Linked DNA regions of Homo sapiens. The protein of the gene in region 3 purifies or fractionates together with the protein of the main gene of each other region. This does not show direct contact. Each region holds a gene or a part of one and is shown on either strand. Other genes may lie near its edges.

Evidence for each region.
Region 1: the proteins of DUSP16 (region 3) and KCTD20 purify together in Homo sapiens (affinity purification with mass spectrometry; 2 studies listed by BioGRID and IntAct, with this or other methods). This does not show direct contact.
Region 2: the proteins of DUSP16 (region 3) and MLF1 purify together in Homo sapiens (affinity purification with mass spectrometry; 2 studies listed by BioGRID and IntAct, with this or other methods). This does not show direct contact.

The regions. Positions count from the first base shown.
Region 1 is NC_000006.12:36,438,753-36,446,018, forward strand, and holds the start of KCTD20 (BTB/POZ domain-containing protein KCTD20), read left to right. Parts: upstream 1-4,247; 5' UTR 4,248-4,359; intron 4,360-4,665; exon of another isoform or gene 4,666-4,778; intron 4,779-7,266. Other genes in the region: PXT1 (peroxisomal testis-specific protein 1), read right to left, coding at 3,783-3,788. UniProt on the Homo sapiens protein: Promotes the phosphorylation of AKT family members.
Region 2 is NC_000003.12:158,574,185-158,581,212, forward strand, and holds part of MLF1 (myeloid leukemia factor 1), read left to right. Parts: intron 1-7,028. UniProt on the Homo sapiens protein: Involved in lineage commitment of primary hemopoietic progenitors by restricting erythroid formation and enhancing myeloid formation.
Region 3 is NC_000012.12:12,552,848-12,559,875, reverse strand, and holds part of DUSP16 (dual specificity protein phosphatase 16), read left to right. Parts: intron 1-5,216; exon of another isoform or gene 5,217-5,340; intron 5,341-6,440; exon of another isoform or gene 6,441-6,567; intron 6,568-7,028. UniProt on the Homo sapiens protein: Dual specificity protein phosphatase involved in the inactivation of MAP kinases. Dephosphorylates MAPK10 bound to ARRB2.

The DNA.
Region 1 (7,266 bases), on a different chromosome or scaffold from region 3:
AAGTTCAGACTTACTTTTCCAAGTATGTTGAGCCCTCTTTATTTTCTGTATTTTCATGCTTGAGTTAATAAATTGCAAAGTTTCCCTCTTTTGTTTGCTTTGTTTTCCTTTATATACCATTTGTTGGAGGTTCTCTGTTTTTAAAGAGAGGGGGATGAAAAGTAAATTATCCCCTTGGGCTTGCGAAATAAAGTTTACCTATCTACTAAATAAATATCTCATAGCTTTCTGTGGTGGCTCAGTGGGTTATTGGAACTTTTTTTTTTTTGAGACGGAGTCTCGGTATCGCCCAGGTTGGAGCAGTGGTGCGATCCTGGCTCACTGCAACCTCCGCCTCCTGGGTTCAAGCAATTCTCCTGCCTCAGCCTCTCAAGTAGCTGGGATTACAGGCGCACCACCGCGCCCAGCTAATTTTTTGTATTTTTAGTAGAGACGGGGTTTCACCATGTTGGACAGGCTGGTCTCAAACTCCCGACCTCAGGTGATCCACCCGCCTTGGCCTCCCAAAGTACTGGGATTACAGGCGTCCGGCCTATTTTCTTTTCCAAATGCAGTTTATTTAAAACTCATATAAGGTGGCTGGGAGTGGTGGCTCACGCCTGTAATCCCAGCACTTTGGGAGGCGGAGGCGGGTGGATCATCTGAGGTCAGGAGTTGGAGAAGAGCCTGGCCAACCTGGTGAAACCCCATCTCTACTAAAAATAAAAAAAATTAGCTGGGCATAATGGCGCATGCCTGTAATCCCAGTTACTTGGGAGGCTGAGGTAGGATAATCGCTTGAATCCGGGAGGTGGAGGTAGCAGTGAACAGAGATCACGCCATTGCACTCAAGCCTGGGCGACAGAGGGAGACTCCATCTCAAAACAACAACAACAACACTCATATAAGGCTGAAAAAAAAAAAAAAAAAACAACTAAGCATTCTCAGTATTAGGTTCAAGAATGAGACTTGTGTGTTCATAAACAAGAGGTCATGTGAGCTGCCAGAGCCAGTACATGGGATACGAAGGCCAGAGCCTGTTTGTAAACCATTAACAGGAATAACAAGAGATAAACATTATCAGTTTACACCCAGCCTCCGCCGAAACCCAGCGTAACACATTTCCACATTTCCTGACTCCCCTATCCTGACTCCCCACAGGATTCTGAGACCAGCCTGGGCAATATAGTGAGACTTCCTCTCTACAAATTAAAAAATTAGCTTGGGGTGGTGGCCTGCACCTGTAGTCCTAGCTACTCAGGAGGCTGAGGTGGGAGGATCACTTGAGCCCAGGAGGTTGAGGTTGCAGTGAGCCATGATCCCACCACTGCACTCCAGCCTGAGTGACAGGGCAAGACTCTGTCTCAGAAAACAAAAGAAAACGAACATTTAGCAAATTTAATTATTCGAGAGAGACAGTTCAAAATCTAGGGATTTTTGGTTTGTTTTTATATTTACTACATAAGCTTAGTCGGTAGAAATGAGGATTAGCTTTTTGTATGACAATTTACAATAGCTATTATTTAAAAAATATTTTTATTCTTAAGAGTCAACCTTGACCGGGCGTGGTGGCTTGCGCCTGTAATCCCAGCACTTTGGGATGCCGAGGCGGGTGGATCACGAGGTCAGGAGATCGAGACCATCTTGGCTAACATGGTGAAACCCCATCTCTACTAAAAATACAAAAAATTAGCCGGGCACAGTGGCGGGCGCCTGTAGTCCCAGCTACTCGAGAGGCTGAGGCAGGAGAATGGCGTGAACCTGGGAGGGGGATTAAGTCCAGAAGATCGAGGCTGCAGTGAGTGGTGATCACCCAGCCTGAGCAACAAAGGGAGACACTGTCTCAAAAAAAAAAAAAGAAGAAGGTTTTGGTTTCAGATACAAATAAATATCAGAGACTCGGGGTCTTGAGATACCTACATTAAATTAGAAATAAAATGATAAAAACCAGCAAACACCTATGCTTTCTGTGAATATACATTTCTCATATCCCGTCTCCTTGATGTCTGCCCAAAAAAGGTACCCAGTCTGATATGCTGTTCATTATATGAAATTTTAGCCAAAAGTTGAACCATTAACTATTAAAAGTCATGTTATCACTTATTTATTTTGGATGATGGATAACGGGTGTTTATTATATCTTTCTGTATGCTTTAATTTCCAAAATGAAAGTGTTTAAAAAATAATAATAAGACTCGGTAGTTAGCCTGATTCTCCAAACTTCAGGCCAGATTTTTGTATACCACAAATCTGCAGCCAGTGCAGTGGCTCATGCCTGTAATCCCCAAACTTAGGGAGGCAGAAGCAGGAGGATAGCTTGAGCCTAGGAGTTCAAGACCTGCCTGGGCAACAGAATAAGAACTCCATTCTCCACAAAAAGAAAAAAAAAAAAAAAAAGAAAGACAATATACAAATCTACGGGAAGGAATCTTTCCAGAAAGGAAGAATTTGTTTCAAGAACTGTTTTGCAGGAATATCAGAAGGTTTTTTATTTTTCTTTGACTCAAAGGCTGTAACACTGTACTTTATAAAAATGGAAATAAAGGCATTAGTTTGAACAATCCTCTATGCTGCTACTGTTGTAAAGTTTGGAGCCTATAACTCACTCAAATTGGTTTATAGCCATGTGTTTACTAAATCTTTTTTCATATTCCTTTTCTCCAGGCATACAGGAATTTATATCTCACAGCCTTCTTAGAGTCAGTCAGGTTGAGCCTGGTGACTAGTTCAGGACAGTGAAACGTCAGCAGAAGTGAAAAGGCCACTCACTTCTGGCAGAGGCAAAGGAGAGCCCTTACAGGATTCTCCAATCTAGCTCTTCTGCCAGCCCGGAAGTGCTGGGAGGGCAGAGCCACTGACGCAAGCAGCAGGGAAGCTGAGTCACCATGGGGACGTGAGACTGACTTACAGATGACGAGTGCAGCCTCACAGCCTAGTCCATGTTGAGATAAACACAATACAGTCCTGCATACTTTATAGTCATAAACGAGGGAGAATAGAAATGGAAAATGACCCTCTAGGCCTCTAAGACCAAATTATAATGAAAAAATTTATGTCTTCAGTTTTGAAAATTAAATTTTTTGACCCTGATAAAACAAATTTGCTATACAAGTATCCGTTAACCGTGTGAAACCTACTGAGTCAAACTATTTTCTTACATTCCTTCCACTTCAACACCAATTCTAATCCAATTCCAAATTAGTTTTCAGAGAGTCTCTTGTAAGGAAAAGGAGAATCGACTTCGAATTTTAAAATTTGTGCTATTATTAGTTTATAGAGCTTTCAACAATTTACAAATAGTTTGCATAATCAGTATATTTAATTAGTATATATAGACATATATATATATATTTGAGAGGGAACTTCACTGCAACCTCCCAGTTGCCTCCTGGGTTCAAGTGATTCTCCTGCCTCAGCCTCCCAAACAGCTAGGGTTATAGGCGCCCACCACCACGCCCGGCTAATTTTTGTATTTTTAGCAGAGACAGGGTTTCATCATGTTGGCCAGGCTGGTCTGGAATGCCCAACCTCAGGTGATCTGCCCGCCTCGGCCTCCCAAAGTGCAAGGATTACAGGCGTGAGCCACCAAGCCCGGCCTAGTGTAATTTTTAAAAGTACAAAAGCCACTAGAAACCGTGACAATAAGAACTTCCTTTTGGGTTTTCCAGCATTTGGTTCATAGGACATGGACCATATATAGATGTTTTTTGAATGCTGAAATCTTTTACTCATAACACAGTTTTCCCAGTAACTTGCTTCCGGTTGATTTAAAATTTGTAATACACCTTTGTAATAGCAGGTACCTTCATGAAACTCAGTATTTGAGAAAAATGTGGAGTTTTTCCCCCTTTCTTTTGGCCAGAATGTATATCCAGGGTAGTGACTTTCGAGCAAATGCGTTTAAGCAACTCCAGTATTCTTACTACGCTACCTCCAACCTCGCTCCACGCATGGGGAGATCAGGGTTCCACATTTTCGGGTAAGCATTAGCCGTCCTGGCGCTGCACGAGCGTATTCTACAATTCCGAAAACTACTAACTTTTCCGTCTGCAACCTTTAATAATTGAGAGGGTATGCGCAACTCAGAAAAGTGCGCCCGCTGAGGTTGGGTGCAGAGTGGACTGGAGGAAAGGCGACACCCATTTACGGTGCGGCCCCGGACGGGGTCCCCAGACACGGCCTTCCCGGCGTGCCACGCGCGGAGGGGACTCTTAACGTGAAGCGCTGGGTGACTCAGCCGCGTGGCCGCGCGGTCCGGGGCGGGGGGCGCGCGCCGCTGCGGCACAGCCGGTCCCGGCTGCGGCTTCTGGCTGCGCGGCCTGCGCGCGCCTCCCGGGCGGATTCCAGCCCCGAGCGGGACAGCGCGGCGGGGAGCGACGAGTAAGTGGCGGCGCGGTACGGTTTCGGGCGCGAAGACCGGGCAGGGAGAGTGTGGCGGCGGGCGTGGCCCGAGTCTTCCCTTTGTGGCCGAGGGGGCGTCTCCTCCGGACGCGGCGGCGGTTCGGACCCCCGAGTCGAAAGGCCGCGGGGCTGAGCTGGGCGCGAGGAACCTGTGGGCAGCGGCTTGATGGGCTCCTGTTTCCGCGCGGAGGGCAGAGTCTGGTGATCCTGGGGAGGGAGGCGACGCTGCGCCCAGGTGGTGGGCACAGCTGAAGTGTAACTTGACTGCTTGACTGCTTTTTGCAGGCCTCGGGTGGTTCATCCCGCCGGAGAGGAATGGCGAGAACCTGGAGTGTTGACTGGCAAAACATTTGCAGACGCGGTTTTTCTGGCAATTAATTGGCTCCATTAAAAATTAGGTAGTTGGTGGGGACTTCCTCCTGAACTCTGGAGCCGAGCGCATTTTGCTCGGTCTTTTCAGCCCTGTTTCCGCGTCTTCCTTCCCTGCCACCCGCAAATTGCCAGCTTTCATCCGTGGCTCTGAGTGCAAAAGAGCTGGGGAAAGCCTTAACCAGCAATTTTCTTTTAAATAAAACTTTGCTTTTTATAGCAGTGTCTTCAGGTTTAGAAGCCCAGTTCTGCACTATGAGAAAACTCTTCTATTTTGGAGTTTGTGATTCTTTCTGAAAATTCCTCAGTTGAAGAGATTTATTTTTAAATAAGAATCTAGTGAACAAACTAACATGATAAACAAGGCTGTGAAGGAACTGTTTAACCAGCTTATGAAAATATGTCCCAGAGTCCTTAGTTTTGTTCCTGTTCGCTGTGCGAGAAGTTGAGGTAGTTTTTTAATGGTCTTCAAAACAAAGTGTTGTAGTAGTGTCTGTCGGATGTGATGAATCCAGAGTCAGAGGACTTCCGCTCAAGGCCCCCACCTGAAACCCCAATTCCTAGGCCATAGTTCTGAAACAGAAGATTGTTCCTTAGTAATAAGGTTGCAGTACCCTAGCACCTCTTCCATAAATTTGATTCTAGAGATTTGTGATGGGTCCCTGAGTCTGGGATTTAAGCAAGCACCTGCACTCTTGGTCTGTTACTGATGATCCAGGGACCGACCACACGTTGACAGACACCACCTTTAGGCTGGGCTGGGAATTTTAAAAACTGCCCAACAGCCTTAACCCTTTGTCGATGTTTTCCTCCCCTGCCCTAAACCAGTCGTAGGACAAGAAGCCCTGACTCTCCAGAAGCCAATATGAGAAAAGATAGTGCTTTTTTTGACCCTGACACGGGGTAGGAAATGATTTTCATGCATATTCCGATATTGCTCTGATGGTTTAGAGATAGCCCATTAATCTTTTCCTTCTGAGGGCTGCTTCTAGTATCATCAGAGCTTAATGCCATTAGGCCAAATCTCCTCCGCCCAGCTCACTCAAGTCTCCCCATGGAACCAGGGCAGCCAATGCCATATAATTCCCATGGCCTTGACTGTCATATTATCTGGTATGTAGCAGTACTAGTAGCATTATGAGGGCTTTCAGTTCAGCTGGACGTTAATTTAGTCATCAAATACCTGCGTAATGCCTATTTTCCTCAAAGCACTGTAGTAGGCTGTTTTATCAACAGCATTGCAATATAGACACATATTTCTGGCACAGAGTTGCATTCCTCCTTTGAGGCAGAAATGAGGGCTGGATAAACTCCACTGCTGCCAAAAGGTTCTCTTTATTCATCCACAATTTGTTCCTTCCTGTTATGCCAGAAATACACGTACTATTCCAATAATCTCGTTTTCCTTAAGAAGTTAAGAAATACATTGTATTAGGCCTAACTGTAGTAGTTAGGTCAGTCTTAAATTCTGTAACAGAAGCCGGGCGTGGTGGCTCATGCCTGTAATCCCAGCAATTTGGGAAGCCGAGGCAGATGGATCACCTGAGGTCAGGAGTTTCAGACCAGCCTGGCCAACCTGGTGAAACCCTGTCTCTACTAAAAATACAAAAATAAGCCAGGCATGGTGGTGGGCACCTGTAATCCCAGCTACACGGGAGGCTGAGGCCGGAGAATCACTTGAATCCGGGAGGCAGAGGTTGCAGTGAGCCGAGATCGCGCCATTGTACTCCAGCCTGGGCAACAGAGTGAGACTCCGTCTCAAAAAAAAAAAAAAAAAAAAATCTGTAACAGAGACATCTAGTAACTTTGGTAAGGACAATAATACACGCATTTTTATATTTATTATTCCCCCTTCAAATAGATGTGTAGAGATGAGGTTAGAATTAGGCCATGTGTTTCTGTGACTTTTTTCCTCTCTTTGGTGTCTGATTTATCTTATTGAATCTTTTTCTGTTGATTCATAAAATGTCATGTCTTTCCTTCTGTAGCCCTGAGCTTCCTGATTGTTGTGTCTTCCTCTGGCCTTCAATCTGATCTTCCTGCCCCTCTTTGGCTAAGTGGAGTGAAATATTGAGGGGAATTGTTAGAATACCACATGATTTTTAGTTGGAAGATCCAGAGTCTTAGATATATGAGGCTTAGAGATATAAAGGAGCTTATTACAAATTTATCAAATGCAATCCTCTCAGATAAAGAATCTGAGAGATGAGATTGCAGAGTGAGGACTTCTGGCTCCTAGCCCAGTGTTCTTCCCACCAAATTAAATGCTTCAAAAGTAGAAAAGGTCCAGAGAAATTATAAGTAGATGGAGAAAAATGGAGAGACTTTCATATGACTACAAAAGCAATATTATCTTATCTGGAAAAATGGAGATTGAAGGAGGATATGATGTAACCATATAAATCATAAAAAGTGGGAGTACTAATAATAAGGAACTCTTTGAAGCTTGAAATAAGTAGTGAAAGGACAAATAAGAGCAAGAGATAGCTATCTTGTAAAGCCCCAGAAATGTTATGA
Region 2 (7,028 bases), on a different chromosome or scaffold from region 3:
TGGGAAATGAAATGGTTAATATAGAAAAATAAAATGATTAAAATTTTTTTCTGAAGATTATTTATTAAGGCATACATGAACTCAGGCAAATTTATTATGCCATTTTAGTTAACGTGTTTAGGAGCTGTTGGGATATGGACAGTGTTATTTTAACAGGTTTAAATTTTTGTATTATTGTGATTCTCTCTTTTGAAAGCCAGAGGCGAGGCTTGGTGGCTCACGCTTGTAATTCCAGCACTTTGGGAGGCCGAGGTGGGTGGATCACCAGAGGTCAGGAGTTGGAGACCAGCCTGACCAACATGGTGAAACCCCATCTGTACTAAAAAAAAAAAAAAAAAAAAAATACAAAATTAGCCAGGCATGGTGACACACACCTATACTCCCAACTACTTGGGAGGCTGAGACAGGAGAATCACTTGAACCCAGGAGGTGGAGGTTGCAGTGAGCCGAGATTGCGCCATTGCACTCCAACCTGGGCAACAAGAGTGAAACACTGTCTCAAAAAAAAAAAAAAAAAAGAATATTTAGCCAGAGAATATTATTTTGTAAAATCCATAATTTTATTATTTTGTATTACATAAGCTCTGGCTTTCAAGAGAATCACAGTACTACAAATCCATAGATTATTGAGGTGTTGAAGTCATTCATATGTAAATATGACATCATACAATTGGTAACAGCTAAGAAGATTATGATAGACAATTTTCGAGTTGTATTATATCCTTGATTATACCAAAAGTTGTTTTATATCCTTCATTGTTAAGGATTCCATCCTTAACTGTGAATGTGTAATGAGTATAATATGTTCTTTAAAATGTCTAGCAGAAGTGTAATTTAAACTCTTGAGTGATTCTGAGCAGAGGCAATGAATTCAAGAGTCAGGGTCAGAAATAGTAACAGACTACAAATAGTAAGCATACAGAAGAACTCTTCCTCTGTGCTTAGGGTGAAAAGGACCATCAGTTACTCTTTCAGTTATCACTATCTATAGCCTTTTTCAAATGCAAGGAGCCATATCATAAAAATTGAAGGTAAAATTGTTGCAGTTAACTTTTTTTAAGCCTAATCTCCTTTATTCATCACAAAGCTTTTGCATAGACCTTTTAAATATACAAAATAGTGGCCAGAACTCTGCTTACAGACTACCATCTTTCATTACCACCATATTACAGTTAATTTTATAAAATTGATTCACACTTAACAATTTCTTTTCTCCACAATGAATTATATTTAACACACTTTTGGGGATAAGGGAGAAAAAGAATATGAGTTTATGTTTATTTCGGGTAATCTATTTGACCCACCCGTTTTACCTCAACCCCCAAACAAAATGAGTATCCATTTCTTAAGTTAAACATAAAGAATTCATAAAGGTGACAAACTCCTTAATGAATCATCCACTGACCTTAGGAACATAGAGATGTGAAACACATAGCTCATGCCCACTCTCTTTTATATAAATATTATCCCTGTTGCTAACATTGTGGTGGGTGGGTCATAGAGTCAGTAAATGTTGTTTAATGGTGAGTTGGTGTCCTTTATTCTCTTTCTTGTAGTCAATCTGGTATTTAGTTGATTGCTGAAAGTAATTATCATTTGCATTCAACAAATAACATTGTTGATACTGGTATTTTCTAATTAGAACATTACGATTTTCTAAATAGTCCATTAGAGTTGCTTATATTGTTCACAATCAAGGTTATTCAATATAAGCAAACGCTACTGATTTACTAATTATTCAAAAATGGACAAAAATGTATACTTCTTTGATATAAAAATAGAATTACTAGATACTACGATGCTGATAAGGTGCTGTGGTTAAATTGTTAATTGCTTAAAATATTTAAGTAAAAAGTAATTAAAATCTGTAGTTTTGAATTCAAATATATTCAGTTTCAATGTTTACCTTATTATAACAGTGCATCTTAAATGTTTCTTCAGAAAAGTAAAAGGAAATGTTAAAAGTTATATTTTAAAATTTGGTGTTTTATTACATACTTGGGATTTTTAAACTTTGGTATCTCATTATGTCTCAGGGCTGAAGTTATTTCATTGAAAATTTACATTACAGTATATTCAGATATACCTTCTTAAACAATATCTGTTACTTGATTAAAAACACAAAGGTTAAAAGCTAGCACTTCCTGGCATGCAGTTCTCTCAAGAATACTATCTTTCTCTCACATCTGTATTTGCTAACAATATGCATATTGTTAAGTACATATGTATAGACAAGAGGATTTTGAGGTTAAATGGTTTTGGCATCCTGTACCCTAAAAAACATCGATTATGTAGTATGAAAGTTTATAAATATTTAGTACGACCCAGAATTTTCTATTTGATACGAAACAGGAACTGTGAATCTTCTGAGCTACAAAAATGTAATTCTGATCGAGCAAGTCTACAAAGAATAATAACTATGTTACCACTTACCAGCTATTGGAGATAGAAAGCTCAGAAGCAGGCTGGCAAACCTGTCAACCTTAATTTTTTTTTTTTTTTTTTTGAGACGGAGTCTGGCACTGTTGCCCAGGCTGGAGTGCAGTGGTGTGATCTCGCCTCACTGCAACCTCTGCCTCCCAGGTTCAAGTGATTCTCCTGCCTCAGCCTCCTGAGTAGCTGGGATTACAGGCGCACACCACCACACCCGGCTGATTTTTTGTATTTTTAGTAGATACCGGGTTTCACTATGTTGGCCAAACTGGTCTCGAACTCCTGATCTCGTGATATGCTGGCCTCAGCCTCCTAAAGTGCTGGGATACAGGCATGAGCCACCGCACCCAGCCAACCTTAATTTTTAATCATAAATTATTGTTGTCTCTTCTTTAAGCCTCTCAGCTCTCCATATGAGCATCATATATCTGATGACCAGTATTTGGTTAAAGTACTGCATATATTCACAGGATGTTACTTCTTCTATCTCCTTATATGTATAATCTCTATTTTAAAAATTTTTACAAATTTGTATTTATTTTATACTTGGAAGTAGTTGGATTTATTAAAGGACATTGCTTTGTCCTATCCACTGATGGAGTTCAAAGTGAATGTATTCTATGTACAAGATGTGGGTTAACTTTTTTATTGATGGAAAACATTCTCATTGAAGGAAATAAAACCACCTTGTTAAGCTTTTGGAAACAGTATTCAAGGTTACTACTTAAATACTTGTTTAGACGTACAGTCTGAGGTAGAGTCTCTGCCAAATTGTCATAGCTTGGCTCTAGTTAATATTCTGCCACATATACCTCTCATTCTAAACAGTTGATAAAAGTAGCTTGAGAATACTCAGCTAAAATTTAAGTTACTTATTTTCAAGGTCCCACTTTATTCTAAGACCCTGAATACCTACTGTGAAATTACCTAGTATAATTGTTCTTAGGAATATTTTAATATATAAATTTCTTATAAATGAACTTTGCAAATTATAAGATCATATTTGAAAGAATGAGACACTGTAAGCCTTGTGCTGAAAGGATTTCTAAGGTATACTATTCATTTGGGGCATTCTTTGGTTCATGAGGTAAACACCACTGAATTAGGAGCCCAGGAACACAGCATGACTAGGACATGGTTGCTGGGTCAAAAATGCCATACAGTAGCATGTACCCACAAGATAATTCCTACTTCTGCCAATTAATATTGTAAATATCCATGAAAAAGGAGTGAACTATTTATAGAATATCAGGGGAGCATAATCATTTCCACAATTTTTTTGATATCAAAGGCTTTTGCCACACCAACACTTTGTACTTCAAGACAATGGAAAAATAGAATTGCTTAATAAAAATGTAATTCATTCTTTAAATATTTCTTCAGTTTCTACTATAGGCCGAACCCTGTGGGTTCTCTTTTAAATTTTTAGATGTCTTGGTTCCTGCCCTCAAGATCCTTCTTTGAATGTTACATGCATTATTTCTAGTATCAAAACATGGATCTTCTGGTCTATTTTCCTTATAGACCAGTCTACCTCATTGAAACTAGGGAACATTTCTTTATGATCAAGAGAACCATAACCATCTGCTGGCTAAGCTTTTGCCACTACCATGTATAATGGAAGGGAGGAATTTCCCTTAATGAGTGAGCCTGCCATGTCAGTTATCTGAGAACCTTATGTAATAGGTAATGCTCTTTGCTTAGAAGCACAAGTATCTATATTCTTATATAGATGAAAAAGAAGTGTAACTTAGGCAAAATAAGTGTGTGTGTGTGTGTGTGTGTACATATGTATTTGAGAGAGTTTTAAAAACAATAAATTATTCTAAAGGGAGACATTACCAGCCCTTAAACACATGTATGTACGTATGTACATACATACATACAAACACACACACACACACACACACACGTACACACTATGTTGAAATCATTCCCAAGTGACCTGGAATCAATCTAAGAGTTAAGACATAAACACTTTTGAAGGGGAAGTAGGCAACAATTTATTTTTCCTGCCTTGTGATATATGCTGAAGGTAAATAATATAGAATAGAAAAAGTACGTTTGAGACCAAAGTTTATTCAGTTTGGTTGTGGTTTGTGTGAGCAATTCTAAGAGAGGAGGTATATAGTCATCAGTGAGTAAAAGTACATTTTTCTTGACCTAAATGAAAATACATCCTCATGGAAAATCTGAAAAGTATAGAAAGTTTGGTAGCAGAAATAATACAACCCATTATTTTGATGTATTTTGTTTCAGATGTCCACATGTGGATTTTTATTTTCCAAAATTCGGACCACACTTTATGGTTAATTATTCAATGCTTTTCTGCAACATATACCATGAACGTTTTCCTGGTCTTTAGATATTCACTAAAGCATGACTTTAGAGTCTGCAAAATATTGCACCCTATGAACATACAAAGCATATTTCTCACATAAATCTTTAACAACATTTTCAAATTATTACCTTAGACTCTTTGTGTACATGAAATGACTAGTTTGTATAGCATGACCTTTTTAAAACCTCCTATTTCCAATTTGTTTTCCTAGAAGAATGAAATTTTATTTTCAAAAGAGAACATTATGAATGGGCTAAAATTTTTCATTTGAGAAAAAAAGCCTAGGTTAATTTTAAAAATATTAAAACAACTGTGTGCTACCATAGAATTTTTTTAGTTTTGATAAAAGTGAATTCAAACTTGGACAAGAGAAACATTAAAGCCTTATCTCCAAGCAGCTGCCTTTCTGGGTAGACATGAATTAAACTCACTAGAAGTTTCAGCCAGATTTCTTCCTGAATGGTTCAGACAGTTGCAAACACCAGACTATAGGCTCGCTTTTGTTTAGTGCATCTTCCAACAGGCAGTCATTTGTTCATGTCACTCAGAAAGATAAAATTTTTAGCATTTGCTGAACATACACATATTCAAATAAACATTTAAATATTCCCCTACTTCTATATAAAGAAAGAAAAACCCAGGCAAATTTTAAATGAGCCATATTTTGTTGATTAATTTTTAGCCCAATTATAATGCAATGAGAAAAATTAATTTTACTAAATTTTGATTCTGTAGAAAAGTAATAGCTGTTTAGCACTCCCTTATTCAAAGAACAAATTTAGTATTTCTTGAAATACTTTTCTTCATTGTAGTCAAATCACATCTACATATCTAAAGGAAAAGTTGACTGGTTTTCCTAAGTAAGTATATATTAATAGGAACAAGCATTTTAGTCTCCATACTTTAACCATACTCTAAGCTGTAAATGTCCAGTGAGTTTGGAGCTGTAAGCAAAAGGACCTCCTTTTGAAATGCCTGTTTTAAAACATCAAATGGTATGAAATCCTTTAACCTCATGCAGTTACATTTATTATGAAATATTTCAAACATACTGCAAAGGTATAACGAATACTTTGGAATAATCTGGTTTTTGAGGTAGGAGTTAGAAAATGTTCCATGGGTAACTCATTTGTGCATTTTAGAACTACTTGAAACTCTGTACCTTCAAATAAAAAGTAGAGTGGGGTGGAAGTAGGGAGAGCATTAGGAAAAATGGCTAATGCATACTGGACTTAATACCTAGGTGATGGGTTGATACGTGTAGCAAACCACCATGGCACATGTTCACCTATGTAACAAACCTGCACATCCTGCACATGTACCCCGGAACTTAAAAAAAAAAAAGAAAGATTTTGTGAGGTGGAAAAAAAAAGTAGAGTGATACGTATGCCAAATTTTGAATTACTAATTTTAAAGTAATTTTGTTCTTCATAATCTGATTTTGGAAAACAAAAAACGACTCCCTTTCTGCCTTCTAGTGTGCTAAAACATGAGCTGCTCCGTGTGTACTATTGATCTGTACACACTGAGATTTTAAATTAAAATTAATTTATAAATTGTCACAACTTCTTTATAGTGCTTGTTGCATATAATTTTGCTAGAATAGTGATTCTCAAACTTTTAACAGGTAGGAAATCTAGGAATGGTAGTCTTAAATTTCCTTTGCCCCTCAAGACAAAAACTCATACTAAAAATCCTACAAGAATCTGGTATGTGGCTGGGCATGGTTGCTCACACCTGTAATCCCAGCACTTTGGGATGCTGAAACGGGCAGAGCCCAGGAGCTCGAGACCAGCCTGAGCAACATGGCAAAATCCTGTCTCTACCAGAAAAAAAAAAAAAAAAATTATCCAGGCATGGTAGTGCACGCCTATAGTCCCAGCTAAGGAGGCTGAGGTGGGAGGATCAATTGAGCTTAGGAGGTCAAAGCTGCAGTGAGCCATGAACATGCCACATTGCACTCCAGCTGACAGAATGAAACTCTGTCTCAAAATAATAATATGCCATGTAAGAAGCTTAAGGTTACCACTTCACGCTAATAACAAATTAAAAACTGAACAACCTGAGAAAACAACTTTTCTTGTATATAGCAGAGAATCGAGGTCACAGGGCAAATCTCTGCCCCCATAATTGGAGATAGGCAGATAGAGAGAATCACAACTTAACTGGTGCAGAAACCTCTTCAGGAACCAGTGCGAGGGTAGTAGGAAAACCTGACCTGTAGTTGACAAATTACTGGAGACTCAGAGTGGAC
Region 3 (7,028 bases):
GGCTGAGATGGGAGGGGGGAAGAGTAGGTGTGAGAAGGTTGCAGAGTTTAGGTAGGGATCAGAATAAGAGGCAGGATTTATGTGTTAGTGTGTTTTGATGCTATTTTCTGTAAATCCCTGGACTGGGAATTTAATTTCATACAGTGTTTAGCATATGGGATTAATATATTGATGAAGCAGACTTATATAGCTGTCCAGTATTAAATTTTTTCAATTTTCAGCTAATCCTAAAAATCCTACTAAATATAATTTGCTAGAATTACCAGTGTAATAATTTATCCTAGAACTCCCAAGTTTTCCTAGACAAAAATAATTTTCTACTTCGTGTTACCTGAACTAAAAATTTCACTGGACATTCAGTGTTTTTAAAATGCATTAAGTTCTCAAGCAAAAGGTACTTTAATTTGAAGAAGTAAATTAATATAGGGTGAACTGATTTGGATCAGAATCCCAAGAAAATAAGGAGATAACTTAGAGGAAATAAAACAGATTTTATGACAGATTTCAACAGATGAAAGAAACTAGTTAAAAAGATTTCACAGGAAAAACCATAGTTGGTGCTTGATTGGCTTTAAAAGAAATTTACTGATCATTTAAAACGGAGATATTCACCATCATAAAAGAAAATCCGAATGTTGGCTTAAACAAAAACATAATTAGGAAAATAAGTCTTGCCCAAAGCTACATATGATAAATTCCAAAGCCAGATGTCAATTTTTTTTTTCTGATTTTCTTGTGTTGTAGACAATCTGTTATTTGTATGCATTTCATTATCCTTGATGATCAAGGGTTGGCTGTGTGAAGAGAGGTTCATAAAGGTTGGCCGAATTTAAAGAAGCAGGCTCAGGCTTTAAGAAGAGCTGGTTCTTCTACACAAATGGATTGAGACAGGGAGTTAGAATTTTAATCAAATAAATAACTGGAGGAAACAGTGGCTCAAAAGAAGGATGTAAGACAGATTACCTTGGACAGGTACAAAGAAATAATAAAAGCTTGCCAGGAGTATGATCAGTAAGGAAGGGAACAGAATACATCTTGCCATGAAAGGAAAGAGGAATAAGTGGAAAAATGCCCTCTGATACCTCAGCAACAAGAGAGAGGAATGAAACTTCACGCCCTTCTTGACTGGGGTTAGAAACATCATTATAGGTATTGCCACAAAGTCACAAGATTTTTTTATTACATTAAAAAATGTAGGCCAGGCGTGGTGGCTCATTCCTATAATCCCAGCACTTTAAGAGGCTAAGGCAGGAGGATCACTTGAGCTCAGGTGTTGAGAACAGCCCTGGCAACAAAGACCTTGTTTCCACAGAAAATCAAAAAATTAGCTAGGTATGGTAGTAGTACGCAGCTGTGGTGCCGGCTACTTTGGAGGCTGAAGTGGGAGGATCTCTTGAGCCTGGGAGGTCAAGGCTGCAGTGAGCTATGATGGCACTGCTGCGCTCCAGCTTGGGCAACAGAGCAAGACAGTGTATCAAAAAAAAAAAAACATATAATCTTGAGGGATAGTGATTGATAGGGTAAATTATGAGCATTACTTATATGAGAATGTAAAATTTAAAATTGTCAGAAATAAAAAGAGGGATTCGCTGTAATATCATGGCCTATTTTGAGTTATTTGAAAGGGAGGGATACATTATAAACTGAAATTATTAACTGAATTTCTGGATTAACTACTGATAGGAATCAAGCAAAACATTTGTTAGCAGTATGCTGTTTACATGTGCTGAGATGGATTCCAAAAGTTGGGGACACTGGCCCATGTTATGGAGAACAGGATTATAAGAATTTTAAGGGAGATACATACATATGCAAAGATAATTACCAGACAGCTGGCAAGTGCCAAATTCAGGTACAAAAGAGAAAGAGGGCTCAGGGAGGTAATCTTCATAGAGATAATAGAATTTGACCCTGGCCTTAAAGATTGGTTAACATGTGTATGGAGAGAGGGAAGTGGGGGAGGCGAAAGGCGGAAGGTATTCACCCATCTCATTCAGCAAATTTATGCTGATCCTCTACCAAGTGCTAGACCCTGGCCATACAGTGGAAAATAAGAGAAAGTTTTTGCCCTTACGTAACTTATATTCTAGTGGGAGAAGACAGGACAATAAACAAAGACAGTAAACAAGTAAACAGTACATTAAAAAAGTGATGTTAAATAGTGGTCGGTAGTAAAGGTAATGATCAGGGTCGATAAATTGCACTTATTCTGTGAATCACTTGCTTTGCCTATGATAGTCTAATGAACAGTCTTCATGTTATAACTTTTTAATATTCATGTGCAGTCCAAATGAATTTGAATAAAAATCTACACATTAACCAGTTTTTAAAAAAAGAAATGGGAATTAAAGAAAAAGAAACCTATGTGACTTTTTTTTAGGTCAAAGCATGGAAACTTAGATTTTTTTTTTTTTTTTTTTGAGACGGAGTCTTGCTCTGTCGCCAGGCTGGAGTGCAGTGGCGCCATCTCGGCTTTCTGCAGCCTCCGCCTCCCGGGTTCAAGCGATTCCCCTTCCTCAGCCTCCCGAGTAGCTGGGACTACAGGCGTGTGCCACCGCACCCAGCTAATTTTTTTTTGTATTTTAGTAGAGACGGGGTTTCACCACGTTGGCCAGGATGGTCTCGATCTCCTGACCTCGTGTTCCACCCGCCTTGGCCTCCCAAAGTGCTGGGATTACAGGTGTGAGCCACCACACCCGGCCAGAAACTTTAAATTTTTTTTTTAATGCCTTGTTAATGTATCCACAGTTCTTTTGCTGCCATTTGCTAAGAATCTCATGTTTTTTTACAATGAGATTAATGTCATTGTTTACTGTTCAGTTAGCTTTTTCACGTATTGGGCTATATTCTTAGGTTAGACTCTCTGTTAGGAACAATAATCACCATAGTGTCATAAAGTGAAGCTAAATTCCAAAGATTGTTTTGTATGGGAACATACAAAAGAAAAGATGTACAGACAATAAACTGTTAGGCTTAATTACCAATAGGTAAAATAGGGTAAGGGATGACACCTGTTCAACTCTTGTCCCTATGGCATATTGTTCCTGTATTACTACAAAAAGTAAAAACCTGAAGCAAAGATGTTCCAAAATGGGGAAGTCTTGATCTTTCCTGTAGTTATTGGACTGCCAGGTTTGTTTTGTTATTGTTTAGAAGATGTCCTTCATAGTGGTCAACTAAAAACTGATATTATCAGGAGCTATTTCATGTTTTGGGGCACATTTTGTTCTTCTGAAGCATTCTTTAAGAAATATGTGCCCTTCACTCTTTTTGCAGTTTTTAATTTTTTTTTTTTTAATTAAAGATGGGGTCTGTCTCTGTCACACAGGCTGAAGTGCAATAGAGCAATCATAGCTCACTGTAGTCTCAAACTCCTGGGCTCAAGCAGTCCTCCTGCCTCAGCCTCCCAAGTAGCTGAGACCACAGGTGGTGCATGCCACCACACCCGGCTAATTATTATTATTTATTTTTATTATTTTTATAGAGATGGGGGTCTCACTTTGTTGCCCAGGCTGGTCTTAAACTCCTGGCTTCAAGCAGTCTTCCTGCCTTAGTCTCCCAAAGTGCTAGGATTACAGGCACAAGCCACTGTGACCAGCAAAACTTTTTTATAGGTGAAATTGAGGTAAAGGATTTTAAAAAGTGTTGATATTAAGTGTGTCTATAGAACCAAATCCCTCAAGAATTATTCTGTATGCACCTAACCAATTTTCATCTACAAAATACTTGAGATAAACCTATGGGAAACAATTTTAATACAAGGTAGGAAATTCTTTAGTGCTCTCTTGATTTCCTCCTAAACTAAATGCTTAATTTATTTAATTTTTATTTTTTTGAGACATGGTCTTACTCTGTCGCCCAAGCTGGAGTGCAGTGGTGTCATCACAGCTCACTACATCCTTGACTTCCTCGGTTCAAGGGATTCTCCCACCTCAGCCTCCCAAATAGCTAGGACTATAGGCATGTGCAACTATACCTAGCTAATTTTTTATTTTGTGTAGAGACAGGGTCTTGCTATGTTGCCCAGCTAGTCTTGAACTCCTGGGCTCAATCAATCCTCCCACCTCGGCGTCCCAAAGCATTGGGATTACAGGTGTGAGCCACCATGCTTGGCCTTAATTTAGAAAAGAATTACAGCTATAAATGCTGTGGGTCTGTGGTATGTGTAATAAAAGTTAATCTGACTTGTACTCCTCAAAAATATTTGGGAAAGACAGAAGAATTCAGGTTTGTTTTAATGTCTATGTATGTTGGGGTGGGGCAAATTGCGTTTATAGAAAAAAGATGTAATGGTATGGCAAGATAATTAATATTTAATATATCCATTATTTCTCTTAAAATAAATGGGGAAAGATGTGTAGAGAAGTATATGCTACTTACAGTGTGCGTTGTACTAGTTTTTAAATACACAGTTTATATCCCAGGATAGTAGAGTAGGCTTTTGACAAATGTTTGTCAAATAATTTCAGTCAGTTCTTACACCTGTTGCTTTTTATAGCCGTTCCATTATATCTCTAGCTTAGAGCACTGTGTTTTGAGCTTTGAGTTGCAGTTTGCAAGGGGTTGACTTATAGTCTTGGGCATGGACTCTTATTTGAGCCATGTGCTCACTCTAGAACGGGGTCTCTGACCTCACCTCCAGCTTTGACCCTGTGGCTGACCTGACTTCTTCTTTTCCAAAATGATGGGTGGTTGTTTCCAGTCACCTTTTTCGGCTCACAGTGTAACAGCTCCTTCTCTTCCCGAGCAGCTGAGCTGTGTGCTCTTTGGATCACTTCTCAGAATACTAAGGTATATGTATTGCCATGCTGGCTTATTTTGTAGTGGGTTTATTTGTTGTTGTTGCTTGGTTTTTGTTGTTATTGTTTGGTTGGTGGAAAAGAAAATTCCTCGAGAAGATAGTTCTTGACTTGTTTTGTAAACTGTACATGGTATATGAAGCATAGTATTATTTCCTCTTCCTTCGTAGCTTTAGTTAAACATCTTGGGTTGACTTGAGAAAGAATTGGTAAGAATGATATTTTGATAATACCCACCAACCAAAAACTAACAAAGACTTTTTTTTTTTAATTGAGACAGTTGGGAAACTTGAAAATGGAATATATATTAGGTGATATTTAATAGTTACAACCATAATGTTTTCAGCTATAATAGTCATATTGTGGTTATGTTAAAATATTTTCATGTGTTAAAAATACATATGGATGTACTTACAGGCAGAATAAAATGATGCGAAATGTTCATTTTAAAAAACTTCAGGATGGGCACAAACACACAGAAGTGGGAAATGAATAAAAGAGTATTGATAAATTTTTGAAAATTGTTGAAGCTGAGTAATGGGTAAGTTGGAGTTTGTTATTTTTTTTACATTTGTGTATATTTGGAAATGTCCCTAATAATGATTTAAAATATATAACCAATTATAACTGTAGGGTAAGAAATTAAATGCAATAAAATTGTGTTGTTGGGTTGGGTATGAGGGTTCATTCTTATGATCCAGTACTTTGGGAGGCTGAGGTGGGAGGATCGCTTGAGGTCAGGAGTTTGAGACCAGCTTAGGTAGCATGGTGAGACTCTGTCTCTGCAAAATAAAATAAAGTAAAATTATATGCTTGGACATTTGAGCTAATTAGCTAATCAAAAGTCTGCACTTGGCTTTTTTTTTTTTTTTTTTTTTTTGAGACCCAGTTTCACTCTGTCACCCAGGTTGGAGTGCAGTGGCGCAGTCTCAGCTCACTGCAATCTCTGCCTCCTGGGTTCAAGCAATTCTCCTGCCTCAGCCTCCCAAGTAGCTGGGATTACAGGCGTGCACCACCACACCAGCTAATTTTTGTATTTTTAGTAGAGATGTGGTTTCACCAGGGTGGCCAGGCTGGTCTCAAACTCCTGACTTCAAGTGATCTGCTTGTCTTGGCCTCTCAAAGTGCTAGGATTATAGGTGTAATCCACTGCTCCTGGCCTGCACTTGACATTTTCTATAAGTTCTGTTTTTAGTAATAAAATTTTAAGAATAAGGAAAATTTCATAGACACATCGTAAGAGGCCAGGCATGGTGGCTCATGCCTGTAATCCCAGCACTTGGGGAGGTGGGCGGATCACTTGAGGTCAGGAGTAGACCAGCCTGGGCAACATGGTGAAACCTTGTCGCCACAAAAAATACAAAAAATTGGCTGGGTGTGATGGTGCACACCTGTAGTCCCAGCCACTCGTGGGGCTCAGGTAGGAGGATCACCTGAGCCTGGCAGGTCAAGGCTGCAGTAAGCCATGTTAGTGCCAGTGCACTCCAGCCTGGGCAACAGAGTGAGACCCTGTTTCAAAAACAAAGAAACAAAACATCATAAGAAGTGTTTAAAATGCTTAACTTTGAGATCTTGTAATAATAGTGTACCTTGTAGTTTATAAATTGCTTTTACATATTTTGTCTCTTTTATCCTTGGAAGACATGAGTTACCCATTTTACAGATGAGGAAACTAAGGCCTTAGAGAGATGAAGTAATTTATTGAAATCCTAAAGCAAGTAAGAAGTGGTGCTAGAATTGGAGCCAAGATCTTCTGATTCATATTCAGGTGTCCATTCTCTTGTATACATATACTTAAAAGTGCTATTTTTTTGTGGTACTATAAACTAATGGTTTTCAAACATTTTGGTCTCAGGACACATTTATACTCTTAAAAATTTCTGAGGACCCCAAAAATCTTTTGTTTATATAGACTATGTCTGTCCATACTTAACATTAGAAATTAAAACTGAAAAATGTTTAAAATATTTATTTATTTAAAAAATAACAAACATTAGGCCAGGCATGGTGGCTCATGCCTGTAATCCCAACACTTTGGGAGGCTGAGGTCAGTGGATCTCATGAAGTCAGGAGTTCGAGACCAGCTTGACCAACATGGTAAAACCCCGTCTCTACTAAAAATACAAAAATTAGCCAGGTGTGGTGGTGGGCGCCTGTAATCCCAGCTACTTGGGAGGCTGAGGCACGAGAATCGCTTGAACCCGGGAGGCAGAGGTTGCAGTGAGCCGA